Linked DNA regions of Homo sapiens. The protein of the gene in region 6 purifies or fractionates together with the protein of the main gene of each other region. This does not show direct contact. Each region holds a gene or a part of one and is shown on either strand. Other genes may lie near its edges. The genes, in order: G3BP2, DHX30, ANKRD28, AIFM1, PPP2R2D, GRB10 and CCNYL1.

Region 1 (4,209 bases), on a different chromosome or scaffold from region 6:
TAGCTGGAGCTACGCTTGCACACTACCACGCCCCGCTAATTTTTTGTATTTTTTAGTAGAGACGGGGTTTTGCCATGTTGCCTGGGCTGGTCTCAAACACCTGAGCTCAAGCGATTCACCCACTTTGGCCTCCCAAAATATTGGGATTACAGGTGTGAGCCACTGCACCAGGCCTTCTTGGCTATCTTTGTAGAACTGTATAGTCTTGTAGGCTTGACCGGGGATTTCTTCTCAATTTGTAAACTAGGAAATCGAGATCCAGTAAGGTCATGAGTTTTTCATGGCCATGGATAAGATAGTTGAAACCTTTTACTCCCATATTCAGAATTTTGTTTCGTTTTGTTAACTTTTTTTAAGAAATGGAAGGTCCCAGATCTAGAAATGGATTACCTGTAAGATGATTTGCTATGAATAATAAAAATGGCACAATTCTTTCTTCTTGTAATCACTTTTATTCTGAAAGTGTAATTTGGCTTTTTTCCTTTTTCTCAACCTTCTTACGTACACTGCATGAATTATAAATACGAACTTTATATTACTTACTCAATTTTCATAGTCTTATTTCCTGCAATACCCAAACCACGTTGTTTGATGGTTGATCTCTAGTAGTCATTTTCTGGTTGATTTCTATCAATTATATTTTGGCTCTCTAAATTCTGAGTCACTTCAAATCGGAGTTATGGTTAAAGAAGTAACTGATGTAATTAGTTGAAACACTGTTCTCTCAGTAAATCTTGATTTTGTTTTACCATTCCTTTGGGAGCCTCCTCTGCACCTTAAAAGCTCAGCTTTCTATATAACCTGTTATATGCCTGTTTAGATTTTACCAGATTAGCATTGCCTTACTTATTTACCATTTGAAGTTAACTTTTCAAGTTACTGCCTTCCAATAGTTCTAAGTATTAATTTATTGAGTATTGATTAATCAAATATTACTTCTACTGCCCTTCCCTGTCTCTCTGTTCTAAATTGATGGTATGTTGGCCATTATACTTCAGTGACCATGTAGATAGTGGGCAATTTGAAGCTTTTTTTGAACCTTGTTACAACAAATCTTTAGAGCATTTTGACCTGTGATATTATATATGTATTATGTACCATTTTATTTTGGTTTGAGAAACAAATATGTAAGTGACAAAAATGATAGATCAGTATGTACTCTATGAATATGATGGGAAATTTGGGATAAATGACAACAGTGTTCCTGTAGAAAATCTGGAAATCCAGAGAGAAGAAAACAATTCCCAAACCCGGAAATTCCTAATAGTATTTCTGTCACTATCAATTTAAAGAAAACTATTTTGTGTATAGTTATTTTGTTCAGAGAGTAATGTAGTATTTTCCCATGTGTTAGTATTATTTTACCATCAGTTTTTATGGTGTTAAAATACATATAATTTCCATGTTTTAGTTATCTTGTTAAATTTTACCAGGTAAGTCTACTGTTCTTTACCCACCCTCATTATTCAAAATAAAAATGTTAGTTGCTTAGCTGTGTGTGTGTGTGTGTGTGTGTGTGTGTTTGTTTGTGTGTTTGTGTGTGTGTGTGTGTTTGTGTGTTTGTGACTACAGGTGTGCACCACCATGTCTGGCTAATTTTAGATGGGGTTTTGCCTTGTTGCCCAGGCTGGTCTTCAGCTCCTAAGCTCAAGCAGTCTGCCCACTTCGACGTCCCAAAGTGCTGGGATTACAGGCGTGAGCCACAGCCCAGTGCTTTGTTACTTTAAATGTAGCATATGTGAGTCCTTTTTGCACTAGGGTTGTTACCCTTATTGGGAGTTTTAAGTTTTCTGGAAAATCAATGACACCTGAAATGGCAGTATTTGGATCTGCTCTTTGTGAATTAACTATTTTTGAAAGCAAGTGAGGCATTATAAAAAATTTTAAACAGATTTGGGGATTTTTGTAAATCAAGTTTGAGAGTTTAAGAAGGACAGTTAGAGGAGGGATAGTTTGTTGGAAAGGAAGAAACAAGGAACCTAAAAACATAATGTAGAAGTTGAATTGTGAGTCACTAGAATTATGTAAAGCTACACTCTATCTGTAAGCTCTACTATAGTTGGTATTTGATTTTTATTAAAAACAGCATCACAATTTTAATGACCTATGCAGGGCTGTCTCTGAAATTGTTTTAGTTATTTAAAGTAAACACACATGGAAATTGACTTTTTATTTTTAATTTTTTGTATAGAGATGGGGTCTCTCTGTTGGCCAGGCTGGTCTTGAACTCCTGGCCTCAAGCTTTCCTGCCACCTCCACCTCCCAAAGTGCTGGGATTACAGGCATGATCCACTGTGCCAGCCTGCAGTGTTTTTTTGTCTGTTTGTTTTGAGACAGAGTCTTACTCAGTTGCCCAGGCTGGAGTGCAGTGGTGTGATCGCGGCTCACTGCAACCTTTGTCCCCCAGGTTAAAGTGATTTTTTGTGCCTCAGTCTCCTGAGTAGCTGAGATTACAGGTGTGTGCCATCAGCTCTGCTAATTATTTGTATTTTTAGTAGAGATGGGGTTTCACCATCTTGGTCAGGCTGGTCTCGAACTCCTGATCTCAAATGATCCTCCCAGCTCAACCTGAAGTTTAAGCAGGACTTTATTTATTTATTGAGATGGAGCCTCACTCTGTTGTTGCCCAGGCTGCAGTGCAGAGGCATGATCTTGGCCCACTACAAACTCTGCCTCCTGGGATCAAGCGATTCTCCTGCCTCAGCTTCCCAAGTAGCTGGGACTACAGGCGCCAGCCACCACGCCTGGCAAATTTTTGTATTTTACTAGAGAAGGGGTTTTACCATTTTGGCCAGGCTGGTCTCGAACTCCTGACCTCAGGCGATCTGCCCACCTTGGCCTCCTGAAGTGCTGGGATTACAGGCGTCAGCCACCGCACCTGGCTAAGCAGGAATTTCAACTGCATCCTGATTTACCCAGTAGATACATGCTTAGGAATTATGATTTTTTTTTTTTAGTACTTTTAAGTTTAATAGGTCTTTTTAAAATAAAACAGGTGGCTGGGCACGGTGGCTCACGCCTGTAATCCCAGCACTTTGGGAGGCTGAGGCAGGTGGATCACGAGGTCAGGAGTTCAAGACCAGTCTGGCTAACATGGTGAAACCCCGTCTCTACTAATAATACAAAAATTAGCCAGGTGTGGTGACACGTGCCTGTAGTCCCAGCTACTCGGGAGGCTGAGGCAAGAGAATTGCTCTGCCGGGAGGCAGAGGTTGCAGTGAGCCAAGATCGTACCACTGGACTCCAGCCTGGGCAACAGAGCAAGACTCCATCTCAAAAATAAAATAGGTTATATTTCATATTTTTATTTTTTATTTTTTTGAGACGAGTCTCGCTCTGTCGCCCAGGCTGGAGTGCACTGGCGCGATCTTGGTTCACTGCAACCTCCGCCTCCCGGGTTCAAGCAATTCTCTGCCTCAGCCTCCGGAGTGGCTGGGATTACAGGCACCCACCACCACACCTGGCTAATTTTTTTATTTTTAGTAGAGATGGGGTTTCACCATCTTGGCCAGGCTGGTCTTGAACTCCTGCCCTTGTGATCCACCCGCCTTGCCTCCCAAAGTGCTGGGATTACAGGTGTGAGCCACCGTACCTGGCCCTGGGGATTATATTCCTACAGTAAATGATAAGTTTTGTTTGTGGCTCACACCTGAAGTGAGAGGATCACTTGAGGCCAGGAGTTCGAGACCAGTCAGGGCATTGTAGCCAGACCTCGTCTCTGCTAAAAATAAAAATTAAAAAATTTAAAAAAATTAGCCAGGTGCATGCTTATAGTCCCAGCCACTCAGGAGATTTAGCGGGGAGGATCGCTTGAGCCTGAGCCTGAGCCTGGCAGTTGAGGCTGCAGTGAGCCATGATTGCACCACTAAACTCCAGCCTAGGTGACAGAGCGAGACCCTGTCTCAGAAGACAAAAATAGGAAATTGTATTTATTTCATGTTAGTTGTTCTTGTTGGTTTTAACTTTGAGGCACATTATCATAGCACCTAACCCATTCTGTTAAGTTTCCAGTTTGCTTGTTTATATTTCTTGACAGACTATAAACTCCTTGAGGGCTAGAGACTTATCTTGTTCACTAGAGTATTTCATTTATTATAAACAGTATCTCATGTAGTTAGATGCTTAATTAGTGGAAAGAAAGAGAGACATAATATCAAAGGTAAAAAATGATTCTCTCTAAGTACTGAAGTTATAGCTGGTGATTAATCA
Region 2 (4,209 bases), on a different chromosome or scaffold from region 6:
GACGCTGCGCTGCAGCAGGGAGCCAGAAGGGCAGAAGGCATGAAATGGATGGGAAACCGGGCGTCTCTGCTCCTCCCACAGCCACACTGCATGGGGACTGCTCCCTCCATTCCCTCACACAGATAAGATAGCAGAGAGCAGGGGCTCCATGCTGCTGTTCTGCAAAAGCCCAGCCACATAGAAGACCACAGCTGGCTGTCCCCCAAGAATGGGCAGACACACACTGAGTGATGGGGCACACAGGCTGAAATGTGAGGCAGGGGCGCTCCCATCTCAGAGAAAGCTAGCAGAGAACATTCGCCCATCCCCGTGTCAAGGCACAGCCAGCCTCTGCTGCATCCCCATCCTCCATCTGTACCTTGAGTCCCTGAGTGGAGCGTGGGAATCCTGCTGGGTCATGGACAAGAAGTCGGTAACATCTATGGTCCCTTCTTCTAGCTCTTCCTCCTCGTCCTCCTCTTCTTCCCGGCCTAAAGAGCGGGATAGGCCCCCAGGTCCCCCTGGTCGAATACTCTCTGGATTCAGCTGCCGCCAGGAAGTAGGGGGCATGGTGGGTTCCGGACGCCACCAGCTGTCGGCAGGGGAGCCAAAGCGATCAGCTAGCACTCGGTATTTGGCTGCGTCAAACAACTCATTCCGGGGACCTAGCAGACCCCAACCCTGGAGGGGAAAAGGGACGTTTTAAGGATTGATACCATCTTTACACCTCAGTCGGCCTGGTCCGTGTCCAGCTACACCGTTAAGTTGTGTTGTGCAGCCGTGGTTTTTCATCTGTTTACCCACTTCAGCCCCTAGTCCAGAACTGGGCATGGAACTCTCAAAGATGCCTAGCTTTGATGCAAACAAATAACCCCACATGGCAATGGGTGAGCAGAAGATACTGTTTGTTTTTTGTTTTTTTGACACAGGGTCTCGCTCTGTCACCCAGACTGGAGTGCAGTGGCACAATCACGGCTCACTACAACCTCTGCCTCCTGGGCTCAGGTGACCCTCCCACCTCAACTTCCAAAGTAACTGGGACTAAAGGCATGCACCACAACGCCCAGCGAATTTTTGTAGCAACAGGGCTTCACCATGTTGCCCAGGATGGTCTTGAACTCCTGGACCCAACAGATCCGCCCGCCTTGGCCTCCCAAAGTGCTAGGATTACAGACATGAGCCACCGCACCAAGCCCAAGAAGATACATTCACATAATGATCTAGGAAGCTTCAGTAAATACAGCAATTAAAAAGTACGTAGGGCCGGGTGCGGTGGCTCACACCTGTAATCCCAGCACTTTGGGAGGCCGAGACGGGCGGATCATGACGTCAGGAGATCGAGACCATCCTGGCCAACACGGTGAAACCCTGTCTCTACTAAAAATACAAAAAAATTAGCCAGGCGTGGTGGCGAGTGCCTGTAGTCCCAGCTACTTGGGAGGCTGAGGCAGGAGAATGGCGTGAACCTGGGAGGCGGAGCTTGCAGTGAGCCAAGATCATGGCACTGCACTCCAACCTGGGCGACAGAGCAAGATTCCGTCTCAAAAAAAAAAAGAAAAGAAAAGAAAAAAAAATACGTAGCCAGACGGGCACAGTGGCTCACACCTGTAATCCCAGAACTCTGGGAGGCCCAGGCAGGTGGACTACTCGAGGTCAGGAGTTGGAGACCAGCCTGGCCAACATGGCGAAACCCCATCCTCCTAAAAATACAAAAATTAGCCGGGCGTGGTGGTGGGCACCTGTAATCTCAGCTACTCAGGGGGCTGAGACAGGAGAATCGCTTGAACCTGGGAGGCAGTGGTTGCAGTGAGCTGAGATGGGGCTGCTGCACTCCAGCCTGGGCAATAGAGACTCCACAAAAAAACAAACAAACAAACAAACAAAAAAACCTATGTAGCCCACACCATGAAACGGATACAACTTCTGTTATAAGAAGTTATATATAAGAATATAAGAATCCTGAAGGCTGGGCACGGTGGCTCACGCATGTAATCCCAGCACTTTGGGAGGCCGAGGTGGGCGGATCACCTGAGGTCAGGAGTTTGAGACCAGCCTGACCAATATGGAGAAACCCCGTCTCTACTAAAAACACAAAATCAGCTGGGCATGGTGGTGCATGCCTGTAATTCCAGCTACTTGGGAGGCTGAGGCAGGAGAATCACTTGAACCTGGGAGGCAGAGGTTGCGGTGAGCTGAGATCGCACCATTGCACTCCAGCCTGGGTAACAAGAGCAAACCTCCGGCGAAACTCCGTCTCAAAAAAAAAAAAAAAAAAAAGAGAATATAAGAATCCTATGTTAGGAATACATTCTAGAGAAATAACTTGAAATGTTAAAGCTATTTATACAAAAATATGATTTTAAATGTGTTATAGCTTCATGCTTTTCTACAGAAAATATAAATTAAACATTGCCTAAGTCTCTAGCATGTACGCAGCAACATGTTGGCCACCTAAGCATCATCAGGAGAGACAAGACCTGGTCCTTGCCCTCAAGCAGTTCGGAATATAAGAGGCAGTTAGCCAGGGGTGGTGGTATGTGCCTGTAGTCCCAGAGACTTGGGAGGCTGAGGCAAGAGGATCACTTGAGGCCTACAGATCGAGGCTGCAGTGAGCCATGATCACACCACTGAACTCCAGCCTGGGTGACAGAGCAAGACCCTATCTCCAAAAACAAACAAACAAACAAACAAGGAATCTAAGCAGCAGAAGAGAAATGCAGATGGCCAGGGTCTAAGGAACAAAGACGTGGGTGAGATGAGTGAGCAGCTGGGAGAACAGGAGCAACTGCAAAGAAAGCACAGGTTGCAGGAGCTGCCACTGGGAGTGGTAAAGGCGACAAAGTCTGCGGGACAGCAAGAACAAGGCCTGTCAGGTGAACATCAGGGCCATGTGACAGCAGACAGCACGGGCCACGGGCCAGGAACCTCTCTACAGTGAGCTTTCAATCCCACCCAACTCATGACAAGCTGGAGAGTGACCATGGCCTGCCTTCATAAAACTTTCTCCTTGGGTTTTTGAGATAATTAAATTTAATTTTAAAAATTCTATTCACAACAGTAACAAAAACCATCACCTACCTAAGGTGAACTAAGGTGGGTCAGAAAGGTATGGACTAAGCACACAACTTGGCAAAAGGATGTAAATCCATGGAGATATATGTTCCTGGATGATAGAACTTTTATGTGTGAGGAGACAAAAACCTCTTAAATTAATCCATAAATTGAACACAATTCCAATCAAAGTCTGCAGAGGCTTCTTATTAAGCATTTGACAAACCAATTCTAAAGTCTGTCTATTAAGAATAGACGCGTGAAAACCGCAGGATTATGGGACAGACGATGGGGCCAAGGTATGCCACACACACATTCGCGAACCCTTGGGGCAGGGCCCGATCCAAGGCTCAGCTGCCACACTTTTGCGTCACCGCCTCCCTTCTGACAAGAATGCCTCTGGTTCCACAGAGCAGCAATACAAGCATCCCTCCTTGGCCTGGCTTCCCCAGCAGGACAGCACCGTTCTCCCCCTGCCTTTGCAACCACTCTTTCACTAGACCAGAGGATCTCGTCCCCACAGGCTCACTGCTGGTCCTGGCCATGCTCCCACACCGGTCCTGAGCTGTACCAACATCCACCAGCCACTGTTCTTGCCATAACCTAGGCGCCAACCCATTGCTCGTCCACAGCTCCCCCTGCTGGCGCATGCTGCCCCTCCAACCCATTCTCCCTCCCACCTCCTCAACTGTCCAGGAGCTGTCCGTGCAACTTCTCTAATACCTTTTTGTTGTTGTTCCTTTTTAGAGACAGAGTCTCACTCTGTCACCCAGGCTGGAGTGCAATGGCATCATCTCGGCTCACTGCAACCTCTGCCTGCCAGGTTCAAGCGATTCTCCTGCCTCAGCTTCCTGTGTAGCTGGGATTACAGGCGTACGCCACCAGGCCCGGCTAATTTTTGTATTTTTAGTAGAGATGGGGTTTCACCATGTCGGCCAGGCTGCTCTCGAGCTCCTGACCTTGTGATCCACCCGCCTCAGCCTCCCAAAGTGCTAGGATTACAGGCCCTCATGCCTGGCCCTCTAATACCGTTGAAGAAACCTCCTCCACAGCTGCCGCTGGTATTCTCTTCCATCCAGTGTCCCTGTCTCTGGTCTTGCCAAAAACTACTGCTGTCAGTGATTTTCCCTAAAAGCAAACTTGGCTGTGTCATTCTATCAATTACCACTAGTCAGAAGC
Region 3 (4,209 bases), on a different chromosome or scaffold from region 6:
CCGTGTAAGTAAAGCCAGAATGAATCAGATTTGGTTTGAGTGTTTTAAGAAATACACCATTGCTGTGAGAATGATCACCTTGTTACCTTACACAGGATAAATGACAACGAAGGTGCTGCTGAGATGTTAATTGATACATTAGGTGCCAGCATTGTGAACGCCACAGATTCAAAAGGAAGGTAGGAATTCAACTATGTATTAAATAGTTTTAGCCAGGCACAGTGGCTCATGCCTATAATCCTAACAATCTGGGAGGCTGAAGTGGGAGGATGACTTGAAGCCAGGAGTTTAAGACCAGCCTGGTCAACATAGCAAGACCTGCATCTCTACCAAAAAAAAAAAAAGTGCATGATGATGCATGCCTGTGATCCCAGCTGTTCAGGAGGCTGAGGCAGGAGGATCACTTGAGCCCAGGAGTTTGAGGCAACAGTGAGCTATGATTGCACCACTGCATTCCAGCCTGGGTGACAGAGTGAGATCCCGTCTGGGCCCTACCCCCCAAAAAGGTTTTATTTTCAATAAGAAATAAATTTTAACTACTGGCTGGTGTGAGAGAATTTACAGAAAACCCATTATTAAAAGTTGATTTTTATATTTGCGAGTATAAATTGTTATAAGATCTCAATTATTTTTACATTATAAAAGGTTTTTCTATTTATAGATTTTAGGAAGTTTTCCTCCTTTAAACTATTTTAACATGTAAATATTTTTCCCTCTCTTTCGAATTTGTTTCCCAAAGATTATTGTTAACAAAGTTAACAGTTTTCTAAATGGGAATAAAGCCTGGAAAAAAGTCCAGCAGTTGTAATAAGTGGTGGTATTCAGATTAGGATTTATTTCTTTCAAAATTTCCTTTAATGATGTAATGTTATTTTAGCAATTTTGTAATTAATCTTTACTTCATACTAGTTCTAGTTTAATTAAAGCCTTCTGTATTATTGAAAGTACAAATTTCTATGAGAGAAATTAGTAAGCTCCATTGAGCCTATTTGTTTGTGTACAGGCAGTGCTTTTGTAGCCTAATATGTAAACCCTTAAAAACAGCATGTCACAAATTAAAGAATATTTTTCCAGCATATATAACATTCAAATTTAGTCATATATTTCAATTTTTCTTTATCACAGAACTCCTCTCCATGCAGCCGCCTTCACAGACCATGTAGAGTGTTTACAGCTGCTGCTCAGCCATAATGCTCAAGTCAATTCTGTGGACTCTACAGGGAAAACACCTCTTATGATGGCTGCAGAAAATGGACAAACAAATACAGTTGGTAAAGAAACTTCTTTAAAATTGTATTTTCCTAAGTATGTGTATCACTTATGTATAACTTAGATCCCAAGACTTCTGACTTCAACTAGTTATCTTACCACTCCTAAGACTTAAAACCTTTTACCTGTTTGCAATCCACATTTTCATTTAGGGATACAATGTTTTAGTTTGCCCTGACTATTGAGGAGTCTACTTTACCATGGCCTTATAACATAGTGGTTAAGAACACTGGCTGTGGAGTTGGATTGCCTGAATGTGAGTCCTAGATCTTTCAGCTAAATGACCTTATGCCTCAGTTTTCTCATTTATAAAATGAGAAAAATAACAGTATCTACTTGGTGTGTTGTTGTGAGGGTTAAATAAATTACTTTAAATCCAGAGCATATAAAACAGTATTTAAAATTTAGTGCACAGTCACAAAATAAATGTTAATTGCCATTGTTAGAGTGTGTGACTTATACAACAATATAATTGTCTCATACAATTATATGAAGATATATATGTTATATATTACAATATTTTTCTTGTACTTAAGTTTTTGTGAGAGGGACTTTTTTGCTTTGTATCTTCATTTCTCTACAGTGAGTTATTGGTAATCTAAGAAACATGTTCATAAACATAAGAATTGATGCACTTTTTCCTCCCAGAGATGCTGGTTAGCAGTGCTAGTGCAGAACTGACTTTACAAGATAACAGTAAAAATACTGCCCTCCATTTGGCTTGTAGCAAGGTATGTATACATCTTAAGAATATGTTTCCATTGTTAATATTAACAGTGACCTTAAAAGTTTTTTGACTTCACTAAAATGAACAACTCAGGACCAAACCTCTCTAATGATCACTGGTATTAGATTTCTTGAACAAAATTGACTTATAAGGCACCATGGCGTATCAAAGTCTCCAGTAAGCCAAATAAGTTTTGGAACACAAGTCTAAGCATAATTATCCTCTTTCCTTAATCTTAATTTTGTCCTCTTCTCCTACCCTCACTCCCAAGATGTGTTTGGGCAAATATTAAGATATTAGCCAGGAAAATTCATGGTATATGTATGGTGTTGTACATAATATATGGACTAGGATTGCAGATTGTTGGGTGTATAAATGTATCTTTAATGGTGCTCAAGTTTTTATAACTTATCTGCCACAATTATAGGGTCATGAAACTAGTGCCTTGTTAATACTGGAAAAGATAACAGATAGAAACCTCATCAATGCAACCAACGCAGCCTTGCAAACGTGAGTACTGTCAGTATCTAGTATAAACTTTGTGACCTATAATTATAAAAATGATAAATGGATTTTTTTAAACATGTGACTATTGGAATAGGTTTCATTAGTCATAGAAGCAATTTTAATAGTTTTACAACTGTCAAAACTCATTTCTAAAATGATCACAACTAAAAGCCATATTATTTAAAATGCTTTTGAACTGAAATTTTATTATAACATTGACAATAATGTATTTTTTTCCTTAATCCACCTACCTAATTTTCTGAAGGAAAGTAGTACTATTTTGTGTATTCTGTGGAAATCAACTGTAATAATATGTTACTTGAAACTAACAATAAATGAGGTAAGAAGCTTTATGTGTGTCTGTAAGCCAATAAGGTTTCTTAAAGAATCAAAATTTTTAATAATGTGAGCAGCCAACCTCCAGATAGACTGACAGAGATCTTACATCAGTGTCTCTCATTGTCCCTTGCTATTCCATTTTGAGGTTTAGTAAAGATAAAAATCTTAGAATATTGTTGCCCGTTCTGGGATTAGTCAGATCCCTTGAAGGTCCAAAAATTAGTCATGATGCTTGTAAGCTGTTTTCAAAGCCTATTAGAATTTATGCTACTGCAGTTTACAGTTTTTAATGTATAGTCTGTATCTTTACCAGCCTCATTCCTTAACAACGGAGGAATGCAATTTCAATGGTAAAATGTTTTTAAACATTGAAAAGAAAAGTAACAAAAGGATTGGGTGAAGGTAGGGACCTGTCGATGGGACCTATGGCTGAGCTTGATGCCGAGCTACACGTTGACAAGGTGTGACAGTGCACTGCACAGAGGTTCTGCTCTCCCTGCCCCCATCTTTGTTATTAGGACTAGGTTTCTCGAGTTTGTACCTCTTGGTCTTCACAAGTTGACAAAAATGCTCTTTGACAGCCAGGTGTGTATGTGTATGTGCATGCACATGCACATATGTGTACATGTATCATGTTTTTTCCCCTAGACCTCTGCATGTTGCTGCCCGAAATGGGCTAACAATGGTGGTTCAGGAACTTTTGGGAAAAGGAGCAAGTGTGCTTGCAGTAGATGAAAATGGTAAGTTGGTTCTATATTCTCTTCCCTTAACCTAGAGCTTTTATCTTTTGATCCATATTTGAAGAGAAATAAACTTGGATATTTTTTATTGGTCAAAGAGGAGAGCTAAAGTTAATATTGAAGAGTAGTTTGTGGCAAAGGAATAAGGGCAAAAGAAATAGGAAAAGTTATCTAACAGATGTACTTCCGAATTCCTATATCATCTGTTACAGCAAAGTTAGTATTTACTGTTTATACTTGCCACTTTCTGTTGTTTTAGTAGCCAAAGATTTTGTTCTTTCAGCAAATATGTATCAAGATCCTAGTTAAGTACTAATATTCTTATTTAAAGCCAGTGTTTCTACTCATGCACTAGATCCTGTCCCCTTTTGCCTACTTCATAATGTCAGTTTGACAGTTCTCTTTTGTGTCCTGGAGTAACATTTTTCGCTCTCTTCCTGTATTATTCCTCTCAGTATATAAACATTAGTTCCCTCATCCTTAAAAAATAATTTATAAATCTCACTGCTCCTGCCAGCTACTGCCATATTTCTCTGTCCCCTTTTGCAGCAAAACTACTCTCTTGCTGTCCGCAGTTATTCCTCTCATTCTTCCATTCTTTTGTTGTTGTTGTTGTTGTTTGTTTTT
Region 4 (4,209 bases), on a different chromosome or scaffold from region 6:
ATACAAAAAATTAGCCAGGCGTGGTTACAGGCGCCTGTAGTCCCAGCTACTCGGGAGGCTGAGGCAGGAGAATGGCCTGAACCCGGGAAGCGGAGCTTGCAGTGAGCCGAGATCGCGCCACTGCACTCCAGCCTGGGTGACAGAGCGAGACTCCATCTCAAAAAAAAATAAATAAATAAACCTTAATTAAACTCTTCCTACTGATCCTGCCAAACACATCTCTGGGATTCACAGAAAAGCTATATAAGACTAGAGAAAGAAAATCAAGGTCACTCCTCAATACTCACCCTTTCTGCCAAGAGCACAGGCCAGTTCGCTACCAAGGAAGCCCCCACCGATAATCGTAATTGATTTGACTTCCCGTGAAATCTTCTCCAAGCTTCTAAAGTCTCCAATCTGCAGGATCACATCAGTTTAGTCCATTAATTTCCAAAAGGGGCATAGGATAATAATACTAGAAAGTAGTTTCTTCTAAATCTTTGGCAAAAGTAAATTTTCTCCTTGTATAAAGTGACTCAATTATAACTTCTATGTTATTAATGCAAATTTATTTCTTCATGGTAAAATTCCTTCTATAAACAGTGGTTCTCAATTGGTGGCAGTTTTGTCCCTATCTTCCCCAGGAGGACATCTGGCAATATCTGAAGACATTTTTGGTTGTCAGGGCAAGTAGGTGCTCCCAGCATTTAGTGTGCAGAGGCCAGGATGCTGCTAACATACTACAATGGCATAAGACAGCCCCCACTACAATTATCCAGCTCAAAATGCCAATACTGCAGAGGCTGACAAGCCTTGTTCTAGGAAGAACTTAAAAGACAGTACACAGCCTGGCCAACAGGGTAAAACGTCCCTACTAAAAATACAAAAAAAAAAAAAATTAGCCGGTCGTGGTGGCACATGCCTGTAATTCTAGCTACTTGGAAGGCTGAGGCACAAGAATCGCTTGAACCCGGGAGGCGGAGGTTGCAGTGAGCCAAGATCGCACCACCGCACTCCAGCCTGGGTGATAGAGCGAGATTCAGTCTCGAAAAAAAAAAAAAGACAGGACAAATCTTATCCCTGAAAAATGACAGCAGTTTTTATAAGCACAGTGTTAAGAAGCAGAACACCTCCTTGCTTTTTATTTAGGTACTCTTAACTTTTTTCTCAGAAGTCTCTACACAGCACTTGCAATGAAAAATGCCAAGAGGCTGTAAGGGGTTCCAATGAATCAAACACATCAGGAAAAAACAACTATGGAAGAGCAATCAGAAGGATCTATTGCAAGCAATACAAACACTCCATTTTTTCCCTAGGAGCTTAAAACCCTTGAGTGAGGTATCTGAGGTGCAGAGAGAGGAAGTGACTTGTTCAAGGCCAGATAACAAGTCTGGAGAAGAGCCATAAATAGAACTTGGATCTCCCAAGTCCCGGGTGGGCACTTGGGGACTGCAAGATTATACTACTTCTTCAAAAACAACACAAGGAAAACACTAAAGCAGACAATTACCTTTCTGAAAAGCGTTGTTCTACTCTTCACCTCTGCTCCAGCCCTATCAATGGCAGACAGACTTCTTGGAGTACCTCCTGGAAATAAGAGAAGGAAAACCCTTTAGCCCAACAAGCAGGAGCCAGCCCAAACAATACTCCCTCCACCACACAAAGGTGGAGCCCTCTTCACTTAGCACCATGGCGGCAACAACAGGATAGGATACCAAGGCTTTGTTTGCCTTCAGCTTGCCTCACAGCAGGCTTTCTGTCAGTTTCCTTTGAGAAGCAGATTTGAGAGTCTGTCTTCAAGGGGTACACCCTGCCCCTAGGTGGCCAAAAGGCCTTACTTTTGGCTTCCATGTTCTCTTCTAGTTTCTCATGAGGATTTGCCAGCTAGCATAGCTACATGGGTTTGATAAATTGCTTCTGTCTCCTCTCTTGGTTTCTGATTGCAACTGGCAATGAAGCCACAAACGACATCACTTTCAAGGCACAGGGCACAGGGTGAGGGTTAAGCAGGGAGAGAAAAAAGGGCAACTTCTTCATGCCTCTACCGGGAGAACAGCAAGGATCATCCAGAAGGGCTGGTGATCCAGGATGCTTTGACACAGCCAGCTTTTGTACCAAGAGAAGACACTCACTTCAGAGAGTCTGGGTTTCCATTTTCTTAAGTAGTAATGCCTTCCATAGAGAAGGCTGGACTCTAAAACTTGAATGAGCTGTATCAGGGAAGAAAGCCATCTCCAGAAATGCTCACCTGTTGCAATCAAGCACTTTTCATAGGTTATTTGAGAGCCATCATTAAGTTTCACCATGTTGTCTCTCACATCCAGCTGTACTACCTGGTACAGTCACACACATACACAAAAGAGGTAGAGATGAATTAGCATTGAAAAAGTTTTATTGAGATATAATTCACATCAAATTCACCATTTTAAAGTGTGGAATTCTGTGGATTTCAGTATATTCACAAGGTTGTGCCACCATCACCACTATCTGATTTCAGAACATTTCCATCACCACCCCAAAACTCCAGGTCAATAAGAAGTTGTCAGCCCAGGACAGGCACAGTGACTCATGCCTGTAATCCCAACACTTTGGGAGGCTGAGGCAGGCAGATCACTGAGGCCACGAGTTTGAGACCAGCCTGGCCAACATGGCGAAACCCCGTCTCTACTAAAAATACAAAAATTGGCCAGGTGTGGCGGCATATGCCTGTGGTCCCAGCTACTGGGGAGGCTGAGGCAGGAGAATCGCTTGAACCTGGGAGGCAGAGGTTGCAGTGAGCCGAGATCATGCCACTGCACTCCAGCCTGGGCAACAGAGCAAGATTCTGTCTCAAAAACAAAACAAAACAAAAAAACCCCAAAACCACAACAACAAAAACAAACAAAAACAAAAACAAAAAAAGTTGTCAGCCCAATAAGAAGAATGAGTTCTTGACCTAAAGCGATCCTTAAGAAACCATATCCAAGTAATCATGGGAACCACAGTTTCTGGTACCCAGTTTTTTTAGGCAGTCATATGTTGGAAATTGGCAATGAGAAGGCAGGCAACATTAGAGCAAGTCATGACAGTCCCAAAGCCCTGACCCATGTGTGGAAAAGGAGAATCGGAACAGCCTTTCTTATATGGCTGTTTGGAATTACTTATTATTACTTTATTAATAAGTCTCCTACATCTACAACATTTTTACAGAATGCTTTCTCCAACTTGTAGCCTTCACGGAAACTTGGCTCTCTCTTAAGGAGAGCTTACACATAGAGGCTGTTCGTTCCCCCACACTCCACATCACAAGGCCAGGAGGAGGTGTTGGCATTCTGCAAGCTTCTTGAGGTTACTGGTCTGCTGCTTCCAGATTCTTGTACTTTCATTCTCTTCTGAGGGACATCAGAGGAGTCCTATATTCCTACGAATCACTGTTTTGAGCCACCTCCTGGCTACTCCTCCTGATTCACTGAAGACCTTGGAACCTGGCTCATACTTTTCCTCATCTTGTTATCTCCTAAACCTCTCCTCCTACCTCAATTATTCTACTTGTTGGTCACAATTTTCCATCCCTTCAGCTTTCGCTCAGTCTGTCTCCTATGCTTGCTTTCAATTTTCTCTGTTTATTTGACTAGCTGCTCCATTCTAACTAATTTGGGCCAATGGTAGAACACCCAAACTGTTCTTTTGCCAGTACCTTTAATTCCCTTGCACCCTACTCCTTCTTATGGTTAAGAGCTTGAGCTTTGGAGTCAGAGAGAATAGGGCCCCAGTCTTTGCACCACTCTTTACTAGCTGAGACCATTCAATTAAGCACCTACTATGTATCAAGTTGAGACAGTGATCCTTGCTGCTTTCAGAGTTTAGTGGCCAAGACAATTTAACAAGCACTAACAATAATCAAGAGTGACAAATGTGATGTAAGTGGTAAGAACAGTGCAGGTAGCGCTGGGAACATATGACATGTGCAATCTAGTCAGGTTGGGTTGGGTAAAGCTTTCTAGAGGCAATGACATGAACTGAGATCTGATGGATAAGCAGCTTCTTTAGCCTCCTTTGATTTGTCCTTGGTAAGCTCCCTCTTCAATCCAATCCCGCTACTCAACCCTCACGGTGTTCGCTCTCAGATAACCATCTTATGTTCTATTGTATTGCAAAAACAAATGAAGCCATTAGATGTGATCTTCCATAGCTTCCCATGAGGCATGAGGGCTCCCCACCACCCCCGTCCAGCCTATTAACATGCTTGTC
Region 5 (4,209 bases), on a different chromosome or scaffold from region 6:
TTCCCCAAAGTGCTTTTTCAAAAGCCTTAGAAAGCAAGCACGTATTTCTTCAACTGTAGTGAATTTGAAGCTACTTTAAACCAGGCTTACTGGATGGCAGCAATTTTGGTTCTTCCTTGCAATTTTCTTTCTCAGAGGTGGCCTCGGTTCTGGCTTTTCCCAGACCTTACCTGGTGTATCTGATGGGCTACTTCTACAGAAACACAGCGGGCAGCAGCTTGGGGACAGAAATGCTGCACACATACCCCCACGCTGCCAAAGAAGGACACACATTTCTCAAACAGTTAGTTCCAAAGAAGAACCCTGCATAACTTCATTCTATGCAATAAAATTAAATAAAAAGACAATACTTCTGTTTGGATTTAAAAACACTTTATAGTGTGTTGTTTTTATTGAGCGCTCACACCCGAAGGGGTGGCGGCGGATGCTGTGGGTGAGTGGGGCCGCCTGAGCCTGCTCGGGCCACATCCACACATCCACAGAGTCCACCTGGACTCGGAGGAAGGCCGAGAGGACACGGACGGTGGCCACACCACGCTGCAGTGAAGGCCCAAGTGTGATGGCAGAGAAAGAGGGAAAGTTGGAGAAAGAGCGGTATCTGACAATAACTTTTCTCTTGGATGTTAATTTTTTGGTCTATAAATTGGAAAGGAAGGCTCGGACTGAAATAAATACATTTATTCTGAGTAATGACCTTTTGGGAGCAGTGTCCGTCAACTCTGCTTCGAGAGCGTCTCCACGTGAGCAGCAGCGCCTGTCTCGCGCCTCGCCGAGGCGGAACCACACCGGGCCTCCAGCGGAGGCGGCTTTCTCCTGTGTCTGTGAAGGGAAGTAGCAGGTGCGTCACTGTTCTTAATGGAGCGGACAATGATGCCTTTTCTCTGACAGAAAAATGTCCGGCTTAACTATGCAAGACAAGACTTGGTCCTCACGTTCGCGTCTCTAGTTGATTTTGTCCTGGAATATGTACAAGTTATTGGTGGCAGCCACGGCAATGACATTGTCCACGGGGTGCCAGGCTGTGTGCAGGATCTTCTTGTTGAAGTCCAGACTGTCCACACTGATCTCGTCTTTCCTCCGCTTACCCCCCGTACACACCTTCCGGGGTTTGAGGCTGGCGCGCGGTTTGCTGCTCTCTCTCGAGGCCTCCAGGGTCACATCCCTCCGCGTGTCTCTATCAAACATCCTGAAGAAGTTGTTATAGGACCCGGTCATGATGGCGCTGTTCAAAACAAGAGCAGACAGCAGCACTCCTCAGTGGGGGGAGCGGCAGCAAGGACTCAGACCCCACCCCTGGGGTGCACAGCGCACGCCACCCTCCCCCACAACCCAGTTACTTTCAGAAATCAGGAATGATCAATCACAATGGGCAGAAGAGAAATGCAGTGAAAATGTGTACCGAGCTTTATCTATAATCATGTCAGTAAGAATCCATGTCACAGGAGAAACAAAATAATGGAGTCACACTTTTAACATTAGTGTATTTTTTGAAACAACCCCACCTATTTATCTCACTCATGAATAACAGCACAGTTTATTTTTAAGCCTTATGTTCTGCAATTTGTCAATGATCCATAATGACCTGAACATAATCCTTATCATGTTCAACAGTTACTAGTCATATCTGTCAATGTTTCTTTGGAGTTAAACTGCTTTTCTATTAATTTCAAAAAGTTTCTTTCAAATGAGGCAACGGATAGAAATAGTAAAAATCCACTGGGCAAAGTGTGGCAGAATTTTAGAACAACTGCATTTCACACACATTCCAGACAATACAATACCGTCCATGCTTTTGTTTCTTCAAGATCAACTGTAATGGCTTTCAAATGTCTCTGCTGTCGAAAAATTCTACTACCGCACACATCCTCATGATATAACTTCATAATACTGGTAAAAACCTCTGCAATCTTACATTTTCTACAAAAATGACAGAAAAATAGCTGAATGATGCAAACGCTGCCATGATTTGACCCATGGCTTCATGAGTCCAGTTTCTGATGAAAGATGTGTTCAAACAATGCCCTTCTGGTTTCTCCAGCCGTCCTTGAAGCTCGCCTCCTCTTCCTATTTTGACACTAACCCGCGCCCTCACGTCCTGCCCCCATGGTCATGCGCGGTGAGAGGCCTTTCACGCTGGCGCGTCTTCAAGGTGCCATGAGAAAGAAGCGGGCCGCTTCCCTTCCATGGCCCAGCACTGACCCTGGCTGCTGGCAAATACCTAGTGTCTGACTGACCTTGTCTAAAACTTCAAAGCAGGGGAAAAAAAAAAAAAAAAGACGAACTCAGAGAAGAGAAACTGCATTCAGCGATCCATGTTTATTTCCCATCTCCTGCTTCCATCCAGGAGCCCACAGCGCCACAGAGGCGGGAGACACAAGGTGTGCCCAGCGCCCTCCAGCAATGCCAAGCTGTGCACGTGGTCTTGGAACAGGGGTATGCAGCCAAGTTGGCACGTGAGGGCCATTGACTGGGGGTTCCCCAAATTAGTTTCCACATAAAACACAATGTTTACGAAAGGGTAAGTAATAAGAATGTGTGAATCTGAAGCTTACATTTATGTTATTAAAACTCAACAGTAACCATTATTCAGAACACAGACGACAGATGATGTATGGCCGACACTGACTGGAATTGCTGGTGCATGGTAATAACGAAAAGCACATCAGCTTTCATACAGATTTATGATCACTTTTAAATTCTCGACAGATAGTGCCAGCCCCAGAGTGGGTGTTTCCACACTGCAAACAAGGGCGCTGCCCAGCAGCCTGGTGCTGGCCCAGGAAGGGAACAGCACAGACAGAGACACAGGCGTAAGCACATAACTGGTTCTGTGGGGCGACCTAGAACACAAGAAGGCGCTGCCACACGGAGAATCAGGATTGGGCTGAGGCAGCACTGAAACGCCTCACTCCCCTTCATCGCATCCCTCAACAGAAGTTTCCAGGTAGGAAGACTGGCGTGTTTTTGAGAGTGAATGGACTAAGCAAATGTTACTGGGAACGCTTTTAGATGTTCTTGGGGATATGTAATCTAAGGGTATTTTGCAATATTTGAAATATATCAAGAGGAATAAAAAATACAGTGACTATCCATGTACCCGCAAGTCACTGCTAAGACAGTGAACCCCCCGCACACTCGCAAGTCACTAAGACAGTGAACCCCCGCACACCAGCAAGTCACTAAGACAGTGACCCCCCCACACACCCGCAAGTCACTGCTAAGACAGTGAACCCCCCGCACACTTGGAAGTCACTAAGACAGTGAACCCCTGCACACCCGCAAGTCACTAAGACAATGAACCCCCGCATACCCGCAAGTCACTGCTAAGACAGTGACCCCCACACACACAACCACAAGTCACTGCTAAGACAGTGAAACCCCCTGCACACCTGCAAGTCACTAAGTGAACCCCCCGCACACCCACAAGTCACTAAGACAGTGAACCCCCGCACACCTGCAAGTCACTGCTAAGACAGGGACCCCCCGCAAGTCACTGCTAAGACAGTGAACCCCCCACACACCTGCAAGTCACTGCTAAGTGAACCCCCCGCACAACTGGAAGTCACTAAGACAGTGAACCCCCGCACACCTGCAAGTCACTAAGACAGTGAACCCCCGCATACCTGCAAGTCACTGCTAAGACAGGGACCCCCCCGCAAGTCACTGCTAAGACAGTGAACCCCCCCACACACAACCGCAAGTCACTGCTAAGACAGTGAAACCCCCCGCACACCCGCAAGTCACTAAGACAGTGAACCCCCGCAAACCTGCAAGTCACTGCTAAGACAGGGAACCCCCGCAAGTCACTGCTAAGACAGTGAACCTCCCACACACACCCGCAAGTCACTGCTAAGACAGTGAAACCCCCTGCACACCCGCAAGTCACTAAGACAGTGAACCCCCTGCACACCCGCAAGTCACTAAGACAGTGAACCCCCGCACACTCGCAAGTCACTGATAAGACAGGGACCCCCCCCGCAAGTCACTGCTAAGACAGTGAACCCCCCACACACACCCGCAAGTCACTGATAAGACAGGGACCCCCCCCGCAAGTCACTGCTAAGACAGTGAACCCCACACACACACCCGCAAGTCACTGCTAAGTGAACCCCCTGCACACCCGCAAGTCACTAAGACAGTGAACCCCCCGCACACCCGCAAGTCACTAAGACAGTGAACCCCGCACACCCGCAAGTCACTAAGACAGTG
Region 6 (4,209 bases):
TGTCCTCGCAAAGCCTGTGTCCACATTAGAAACACACCTTGGAAACACACGCTGAATCCACACACCACCTCTACTTTCCTGGCACATCTCCAGGGGCATCTGTTCCCTCCTCCGAAAAATGCACAACCCACTTGTCACACAACTATGCAACACACACACAGTATGACGAATCAGAAGCAACTGTGAACAGCAGAGAAATCAAGTTCAAAGTCAAAGCGAATGTCAAGTGTCTGGCACCTCCCCTCTGTAGAGTAACTTCTGGCCCACACCTCCAGGGCACTCCTGGACACACAGCCTCCTCCACCCTTCCTGAGGCCACGCGGCCCTGTCTGCAGCCTCCTACCTTCAAGGAGAGGGGAGCAAACCTCACATTATCTTCACTCGGCATTTCCAATCCCTCCCCATGTTTAAACATACCTCAGAAACCCCCATCATAGGCTGTGTCCTCAAGTAATTTTTTTGACAATTTTTACGATTTCACAAAATCAACAATCCGTTAGCTTTCCCAGGAGATTTGCCACTACAGAAACACATTTTGTGACTGTATTACTTTTTCTCTTTTACCAACTTTCCCTATTTTTTAAAGGAAGATCCAGCTAACTATCCCACGTAGACCAGCAAATGATGCATGGATTTAAAATTACGAGAACTCACATGGCATGAAGGGAATCAGTGCTGCGAAATACAGGAAAGCCGTTCCTATAATGGTTTGATGACATGCCATAAAGTTTATTTTTACTGTGAACAAATCCCACTCTTCCCATAACAGCTTCAGCCTTGGCAAGGCGTCCAACTGAAACGTCTGGCCATTGTCATACAGGAGGAGATGGATAAAACGGGTGGCCAGTGCCACTTTCCCATCCACGGCTTCTAGCCAGTGACTTCACCCCAAAAAGATAATCTGACGTTTTAGTGTCCACAAAAGCTTCTCTATTTATTGGGTTGTTTTGAGCATTTTAAAAAGTCCTGTGTTGACTTTAAAGCGGCTCAGAGACATCGCCTAAGGCAAGACTAAGGGATATCACACAAAGACAAAAAATCCCCACCAAAGAGGCTCACAATAGAAGGGACAGTGACTATGGAGAGGGGTGCTGAGATTTAGGGATGTCAGGGATGGTGGCAGGAACTGCAGAGCTGAGGGGCGAGGTCCTTCTTCTCTGTGCCTTGGCTCACTTGTGTTTGTCTAGAACACATGCGTGGCCCTTGCACTCTCAAAAGCCTGGGTTCCTTCTCTGTACAGAATCGGCTCACCCATCGGCTTTCCTATGTGCAAAGCCTTCTTGCCCTTCCCAAGTGTCTCCTCTGCCCATACCCTGCCTGCCCCCCAGCTCCCTTCGGGTTGCATGGCAGCCCCCGGTAAGTTCCTCTGCAGCGTGGACCATGCTCCGTGACCTCTGGTACCCAGCAGCCTGCTCCATGGCCACTTCCCACCTGATGTGGTGAGCCCAGTTACCGCCCCGCTGTGCCACGGTTTCCTCAGCTGGGAAGCGAGGGTAACCCACACTGCCTCCCTCCGAGGGCACTGATAACAAGGAGGAGCTCATCAGCATCTGCACACAGTAAGCACTCAGCAAATGGCCTCACTTCACAAAATAATCTTTGGTGATTCCAGATTGATCTCCACATTTTTTTTTAATCCACCTGAAAGTAAGAAACAAAACTACTTATCTGAGAGGACACCAGAGAGAAGACATTGGGCCCAAGGAACAGCACCTGTGACCCTGTAGGGAGAGGGCTTTGCTGTCCCACAGAGCAAGCCTGCCCCTCCATCCCAGGGACTTAGCGCAGGTAGTCCCGGGGCACATATGGGCGAGTTCAGCCAGAACTCGAGGTTCAAGGGTCCTGGGCAACTACTCCAGCAGGGAGGCAGGCCTTCTGGCTTTCCAGCCCACCCTCGGGCACCTTCGCCATGCAACTGCACCTCCATATTCCCAGGCACTCCCCAAGGCTACTGTGATGCTCCCAAGAGATGCTCCCAAGAGAAAAACAGCTCTCCCACCAGACTTAACTCCTCAGGAGCTAAGTACAAGGGGTCACGCTTCAAAGAGCAAAGTTGAACAAACCCTGGGACAGGCATCATTCAGCATCAATGAATATGACAAAAAGTGAGAAGTCGGAGGGGAAGCCGGGGTGGGAAGCTGGGGAGGCAGCTGACCACGGGCGCCAGGGCCGCTGCACCCTCTCCCCTCCGTAAGAAACAGCTGCCACCTGGGGCAAGGTGATTATCTGGGCTGCGGAAGACCCAAGATGTCAGACCACAAAGAAAACTCTCAGAAGTTTCTAGAAGCAAGAAGAGCCCAGGAAATGAACAGAGCTCCCCGGAAGATGGGGTGCTGAGACAGAAGGCACCAGAACCCCATCCTGACAGAGGCCAGTGAGGGCAAGGGGCAGTCCCAGCAGAGATGGCTGTACATCCTCCGCAAAGGCCCAGAGAGGCACGCAGGGTCCCACGGAGCCCCACGCCATCCCGACTGCGACAGGGCAGACAGGCGGATCCTTGAGGGCTGCCCCTGGCTCTCAGCTTGATTCTACAAAGATCTTCATTCAGAATGTCTAAGGTACTCTCAGCACCTTCACCTTCGACATGACCATTCTCTAGACACCCTCCTCCCAGGCACTCGAGACAAAATCCAAGTCACCCTCCACACACTCTCTGTCTCCTCACAGCCCTGGCAAAATTCAAGTGCTGGCAAAACGCAGCTGCTCCTCCTCAGCAACGTGCTCAAATCCCCCCTCCTTCTTCATCCTCAGGCAGCGCACAATCATCTCCCATCCGGGGGCTCCTGAGACCACTTCCAAACCGGCCATGCTCTGCCAACCCTGCTGCCCTCTACCACTGCCCCCACGACCCCTGGCAACCAGAATGCTGGTGTCAAAACCCAAACCCAGCCCCTTCACACGCCTGTCCAGAACTCTTTCTCACGTGGCTCCTGAAAAAGGCACACAAAGTGCTTCAGCACCGGCCCCCATCTGCATCATCTCTTCTGCTCACAAAACCTCTGCCTCCATCTATCTGAGCTCCTATCACCCTTTGACATCCGTTCAGAAATCCTACCTCCCAGGAACCTCCCTCAACGTCCCCAGCACGTTCCTCCCTCCAGCCTCCCTGTTTCCACAGAGATGTGCCTACCCCTGAATTAGCAGAGGAATGTGGCAAAATGCAACTCTGAGGGAGGTCTGGGGTTGCACGACAAGCTCCAGGGGGTGCTGTAGCTGCTAGCCTCCCGTCCCTACTCTGGGTAGTGAGGACTTGGGGCATGCAATCAGCTCCATGGCTGTTCTTCCAATCTTTCCAGAGATTTTTCCTCTGGTGGTTTTCCTGCATATCCCTCTACCTAGCACAGTGCCTTGCACATAGCAGGCACTCAATAAAAGGTACTACTGGAATTGAACTGGCTACAAAGTTCAACCCAAGGGCGGCACACTGCACACACTCAGTGTATCCGTTATCCCATCAAAGCAATGTATCTGCCTCTTGACTTTGCAAGACCAACACTATTCCCCCCAACACCATTTAACTCACAGAGAGCAGTGTCCCTGCCGACAGCTCTCATCCTTGGAGAAGGCTCTGCCCATAAGGCCTGGACCTACCTGACAGCGAGGATGTGCACAGGCTGGGAGCGCTGCACCCTCTGCCTCGGGGACACCTGTGGCTGGATGGACCGAGGAGGGCCTGAAGCCCGAGGCTGGCTGCGGGCATGCTGGCCATTCTGCAGGAGGGGCACCGTGTCTGACTGCATGCTGCAGGCCGAGTACAGGCTCTCCAGGGATGCATTCATATCGTTCACCAGGGCTTCCAGGTCCACATCATCCTCTGCACAGAAAAAGGCAAGAGCAAAAAAGAAACTTTAACAATGGAGAGCAATCAAACCCAAATGTACATCTTGGTGATCAGGTTCCAAACCTCAATCCTATTTTTCAAATATTATGGAAGGGGTAGAGGGGAAACACCAAGACAAGTATGACTGTATGGAAGCATGCATATTACATGTATTCATCATGACTGACATTCCAGAGACAATTCAATCATTAGAGCTGGGCTGCATTTCTACCTGTCTCCAGGGAGAAGCCATTCAGAGCATCTGCTCAGCTCCCTTCAGCACCCCCTTCTCTCCTCCCCACCCCCTCCGGTAGGCCGCACACAGCCACAGCTGCATAGCACGACCCCACTGGCCTGGACTCAGCTGACTGAATCACAGGTGTCTCCCA
Region 7 (4,209 bases), on a different chromosome or scaffold from region 6:
CTTTAAAAGAATAAGTTAAACTGAGCAGCTGCTATTCAGACGGTTTGCTGTGCCTGTAAAGGGTATGCTATTCAGCCACCTAGCCATTTAAAAAAAAACAAAAAACCTAGAAGATGCATATTCTGTAAGCATAATGCTTTTCTTCAGTGATTAAACCTCTATTAATATGTGTGTTAATCCTATGAAGTACTATATTTCTACACAGTTAAAATGTATTAGTGGAAAAAATATAAAAGGGATTGTGAAGTGCATTTATTGCTGTAGTAAATTAAGTCCTGGTTAGCTGATTATCAAAACATTATCTGATTTACATTTCTATAGGCTTATGGACATATGAACAGGAAATTAATTTTGGAAGTAGGTTCAGTTGGGTTTTTAAGCTCAGCAAATGAGAAAACCACATCTCTGCTCATATTAACTGCTCTCCATACAGGAGATCATCAAGCATTTGTTGACTTACCCAGTGGATAAAATATTAAAACTTTGAAACCAAGAAACCAAATATGTTGTTTAGGTATTTATCATTTTTATACAGTTAACTCCTTATAGGGATTACTGTGAAAGTGGTTAAGATTTTCTCTAGTTTTATGTTTATTTGCTTAAGCATTTGGCAAGGGCAGCTGTGTGGTCATGTAGCCGACTACTACTCCCAGCCCTTTCCTCTCCCATTGCATTCAGCTCACTCCTACATTCTGTTCTGACCAGGACGGTAGATACTGAGCACCTCAGGGTTTCATTCCCAACTCAGAAGAAACACTGAGTTTTTAAGTCCAGTGACCTACCATAAGTCATATCATAAAATGGGTTTAGTCTAGCCAAGACATCCACCTTTGATCTTTCTGCCTTCCAAAGTTTAAAGAGTATCCTCACCCTGTCATAGTGACAATTTCTCACCTTCATAATATTAAAGTGAGCAGAAACTTGCATTATGCCCTTTGACATAGCCTCATGCGCCGGGACAGGGGGAGGGGATTCCCTTCCCCTGTAATGTAGCTTGCTTATTTATTTATTTGAGATGAATCCTTGTTGCCTCAAGAGTTTTTCCCCCTCAGAGATAATAGCAGTGGCTCTTGATGGATCCATTTGTTGCCGTGGTGATATGCCTACTCCTTTTGTTGGTGCTTCTCTACTTCAATAAGCCCCTTCCTGTTATCAGCCTGGTGAAAATGTCTGCAAGTTCTTCAGAGCTAATAAACAGCATACATCATTCCTTTCATCTGATCACTATAGTGGGGCCTTGTGAGTGAGCGTGAAGTATGAATTGTACAGCTGCACTAATGGAACTCTGAAGAATGAGGCCCGAGTCAGCAGCACAAGTGCATCGGAGGCCGTAACCTTCAACCTTCATCCCAGTTCCAGAGTGCTGGGATGCAGAAGGGACCACAAGTAACTGTACCTTATGTGAACATTAGTATGTTAATACAACTGGGTAGCCTATATTTTAAAATAGAGTTTAGAGCCATTCTAGTCTCTTAGAATGATATTTTTGAAGATAGCCCAGTTGACTGACATTGTCCTGTGCTGGTTCTGTTGTGTTCTTCCTCCTCCAGGAATGAAATGGAAAGGCATTTTCTGGAGCTTCTTCAGTTTAATATTAATGTTCCTGCCAGTGTTTATGCCAAATACTACTTTGACCTTCGCTCCTTAGCAGATGACAACAACCTGAATTTTCTATTTGCTCCTCTTAGCAAAGAAAGAGCACAGAACCTAGAGGTAAGGCTATGAAGTCACTAAGTGAGGTTTTCCATCAGCCACCAAAGCCAACATCTGTGACTAAATCATATTAAGTAGTGATTAGGAAAATGGAAAGCTTTAAAATTAACTAACACTGAAGAGCTTATTAGCCCTTTGGCGTCAGATTTCCTGTGTCTTGTATGGTTTATACAAGGATCAACATTATTTAAAAATTATACATATTAACTCTTCTGTGACCATAATTCAGAATATTTTAAATCAAATTTAATCTGTTGTTAATGAGGTTTCCTTTTGAACTTCTACCCTTTCACATAACCATACATGAATAATTTTTTTAGCTGGGCACTGTGGCTCATGTCTGTAATCCCAGCACTTTGGGAGGCTGAGGTGGGCAGATCACTTGAGGTCAGGAGTTCAAGACCAGCCTGGCGAACATGGTGAAACCCTGTCCCTACTAAAAATACACACACAGGCCGGGCGCGGTGGCTTACGCCTGTAAGCCCAGCACTTTGGGAGGCCGAGGAGGGCAGATCACCTGAGGTTGGGAGTTCAAGACCAGCCTGACCAACATGGAGAAACCCCGTCTCTACTAAAAATACAAAATTAGCCGGCCGTGGTGGCGCATGCCTGTAATCCCAGCTACTCGGGAGGCTGAGGCAGGAGAATCGCTTGAACCCGGGAGGCGGAGGTTGTGGTGAGCTGAAATCGTGCCATTGCACTCCAGCCTGGGCAACAAGAGCGAAACTCCATCTCAAAAAAAAAAAAAAAAAGTACACACACACAAAAATACAGGCATGGGGGTGCATGCCTGTAATCCCAGCTACTTGGGAGGCTGAGGCATGAGCATCGCTTGAACCTGGGAGGCGGAGGTTGCAGTGAGCCAAGATTGCACCGCTGCACTCTAGCCTAGGTGACGGAGTGAGATTGTGTCTCCAAAAAAAAAAAATTTTTTCTTTGCGACTGTATTCCTAATTTTATCTACATACATAATTCACTTGCCACTCTTGACTGTCTTACTTACTGTTTGCAAATTCATGTCATGGTTTATGTATCACAGTGCAGTCCCATGAGTTTTTTAGACAAAGGATTAGTGGATAAGCCAAGAGACCTATACCCTTCACTGTATAGGATGCAGGTGTTTCAAATGCTGGATGTAAGTGGTAGGCATGGTGGCTCACACCTGTAATTCCAGCATTTTGGGAGGCCGAGGCAGGTGGATCACTTGAGATCAGGACTTCAAGACCAGCCTTACCAACACAGAGAAACCCGGTCTCTACTAAAAATTCAAAAATTAGCCGGGCGTGGTGGCAGACGCCCAGTTACTCAGGAGGCTGAGGCATGAGAATTGCTTGAACCCGGGAGGCGGAGGCTGCAGTGAGCCGAGATCATGCCACTGCACTCCAGCCTGGGCGATAGAGCAAGACCCTTGTCTCAAAAAAAAAAAAATAATAATGTAGGAAGTACATGGGTTTTTAATAGAAATGGTAACTTTATGGGGCAAAGTAATATTTATGGCTTATGACTCTTGGTGAGTATACAGCAGAATTACAACTGAAATGGACACATATTTTAAACTAACACTTTCTGTGGTACCTTGGTGGTACTTTAGAATAATATGTATTTCTAGGCTGGGCTCAGTGGCACATGCCTGAGAGTGGCTCATGCCTCAGAGGCTCATTCCTCCCAGCACTTTGGGAGGCCGAGGCAGGCGGGATCACCTGAGGTCAGGAGTTTGAGACCAGCCTGGCCAACATGGTGAAACCCTGTCTCTACTAAAAATACAAAAAATTAGCTGGGTATGGTGGCACATGCCTGTAATCCTAGCTACTTGGGAGGCTGAGGCAGGAGAATCGCTTGAACCTGGGAGATAGAGGTTGCAATGAGCTGAGATCACTCCAGCCTGGGCAACGAGCGAAACTCTGCCTCAAAAAAAAAAAAGAAAAAAATAATAATATGTATTTCTACCATAATTAACGTGCATGTGAAGTAATACCTTTTGGCGCGTCAGTCATCAGACCGCTCATATGTTCCAGTATAGTCCAGCACACACCTGCCTCATTAAAATGTGCTTTGAGTATATAATAGCTAATAAGGATTGGGTAGAATTTGAATAGCTGAATAAACATTTTTTTGCACAAGTGTACGTTTGTTATATTTAAGGAATAAGTTAACAGATAACAGATGCTATTGCTGTTAGGAGCCCTATCACAATACCTTTGATATCTTTGGGAATCCAGTTTTTTAATAATATAATAAATTCCCCTTTGTTCTCTGGGAATCTAACCATAGCCCTTAAAGGATATTACCTTGGTGAACTGTCAGGAAGTAGTGTCCCCACAACCTGGCAGTGTAAAACTCAGCCAAAGTAGCTGTAACTGTGAACTATCTAAAGGAGTCCACATGTGTGGCTTTCACAATGGTGCTCTTTCAAAGGCGGGAACCCTTTTTAAAATTGTACCTGTTTTCTATTTGATTGACTTTCCTAGGCTATTTCTAGATTGTGTGAAGACAAAG

Evidence for each region.
Region 1: the proteins of GRB10 (region 6) and G3BP2 purify together in Homo sapiens (affinity purification with mass spectrometry; one large-scale study listed by BioGRID and IntAct). This does not show direct contact.
Region 2: the proteins of GRB10 (region 6) and DHX30 purify together in Homo sapiens (affinity purification with mass spectrometry; one large-scale study listed by BioGRID and IntAct). This does not show direct contact.
Region 3: the proteins of GRB10 (region 6) and ANKRD28 purify together in Homo sapiens (affinity purification with mass spectrometry; one large-scale study listed by BioGRID and IntAct). This does not show direct contact.
Region 4: the proteins of GRB10 (region 6) and AIFM1 purify together in Homo sapiens (affinity purification with mass spectrometry; one large-scale study listed by BioGRID and IntAct). This does not show direct contact.
Region 5: the proteins of GRB10 (region 6) and PPP2R2D purify together in Homo sapiens (affinity purification with mass spectrometry; 2 studies listed by BioGRID and IntAct, with this or other methods). This does not show direct contact.
Region 7: the proteins of GRB10 (region 6) and CCNYL1 purify together in Homo sapiens (affinity purification with mass spectrometry; one large-scale study listed by BioGRID and IntAct). This does not show direct contact.

Annotation. Positions count from the first base shown.
Region 1 is NC_000004.12:75,662,970-75,667,178, reverse strand, and holds part of G3BP2 (ras GTPase-activating protein-binding protein 2), read left to right. Parts: intron 1-4,209.
Region 2 is NC_000003.12:47,837,328-47,841,536, reverse strand, and holds part of DHX30 (ATP-dependent RNA helicase DHX30), read right to left. Parts: intron 661-4,209; coding exon 359-660; intron 1-358.
Region 3 is NC_000003.12:15,675,271-15,679,479, reverse strand, and holds part of ANKRD28 (serine/threonine-protein phosphatase 6 regulatory ankyrin repeat subunit A), read left to right. Parts: coding exon 1-4; intron 5-95; coding exon 96-179; intron 180-1,125; coding exon 1,126-1,271; intron 1,272-1,852; coding exon of another isoform or gene 1,853-1,866; exon of another isoform or gene 1,867-1,917; coding exon 1,918-2,000; intron 2,001-2,423; coding exon 2,424-2,506; coding exon of another isoform or gene 2,507-2,510; intron 2,511-3,490; coding exon 3,491-3,582; intron 3,583-4,209. UniProt on the Homo sapiens protein: Regulatory subunit of protein phosphatase 6 (PP6) that may be involved in the recognition of phosphoprotein substrates. Involved in the PP6-mediated dephosphorylation of NFKBIE opposing its degradation in response to TNF-alpha.
Region 4 is NC_000023.11:130,138,306-130,142,514, forward strand, and holds part of AIFM1 (apoptosis-inducing factor 1, mitochondrial isoform AIF precursor), read right to left. Parts: intron 2,313-4,209; coding exon 2,228-2,312; intron 1,567-2,227; coding exon 1,490-1,566; intron 397-1,489; coding exon 288-396; intron 1-287. UniProt on the Homo sapiens protein: Functions both as NADH oxidoreductase and as regulator of apoptosis.
Region 5 is NC_000010.11:131,952,697-131,956,905, reverse strand, and holds part of PPP2R2D (serine/threonine-protein phosphatase 2A 55 kDa regulatory subunit B delta isoform), read right to left. Parts: intron 1,223-4,209; coding exon 943-1,222; 3' UTR 1-942. UniProt on the Homo sapiens protein: Substrate-recognition subunit of protein phosphatase 2A (PP2A) that plays a key role in cell cycle by controlling mitosis entry and exit. Involved in chromosome clustering during late mitosis by mediating dephosphorylation of MKI67.
Region 6 is NC_000007.14:50,670,845-50,675,053, forward strand, and holds part of GRB10 (growth factor receptor-bound protein 10), read right to left. Parts: intron 3,815-4,209; coding exon 3,592-3,814; intron 1-3,591.
Region 7 is NC_000002.12:207,749,407-207,753,615, forward strand, and holds part of CCNYL1 (cyclin-Y-like protein 1), read left to right. Parts: intron 1-1,550; coding exon 1,551-1,713; intron 1,714-4,181; coding exon 4,182-4,209. UniProt on the Homo sapiens protein: Key regulator of Wnt signaling implicated in various biological processes including male fertility, embryonic neurogenesis and cortex development. Activates the cyclin-dependent kinase CDK16, and promotes sperm maturation.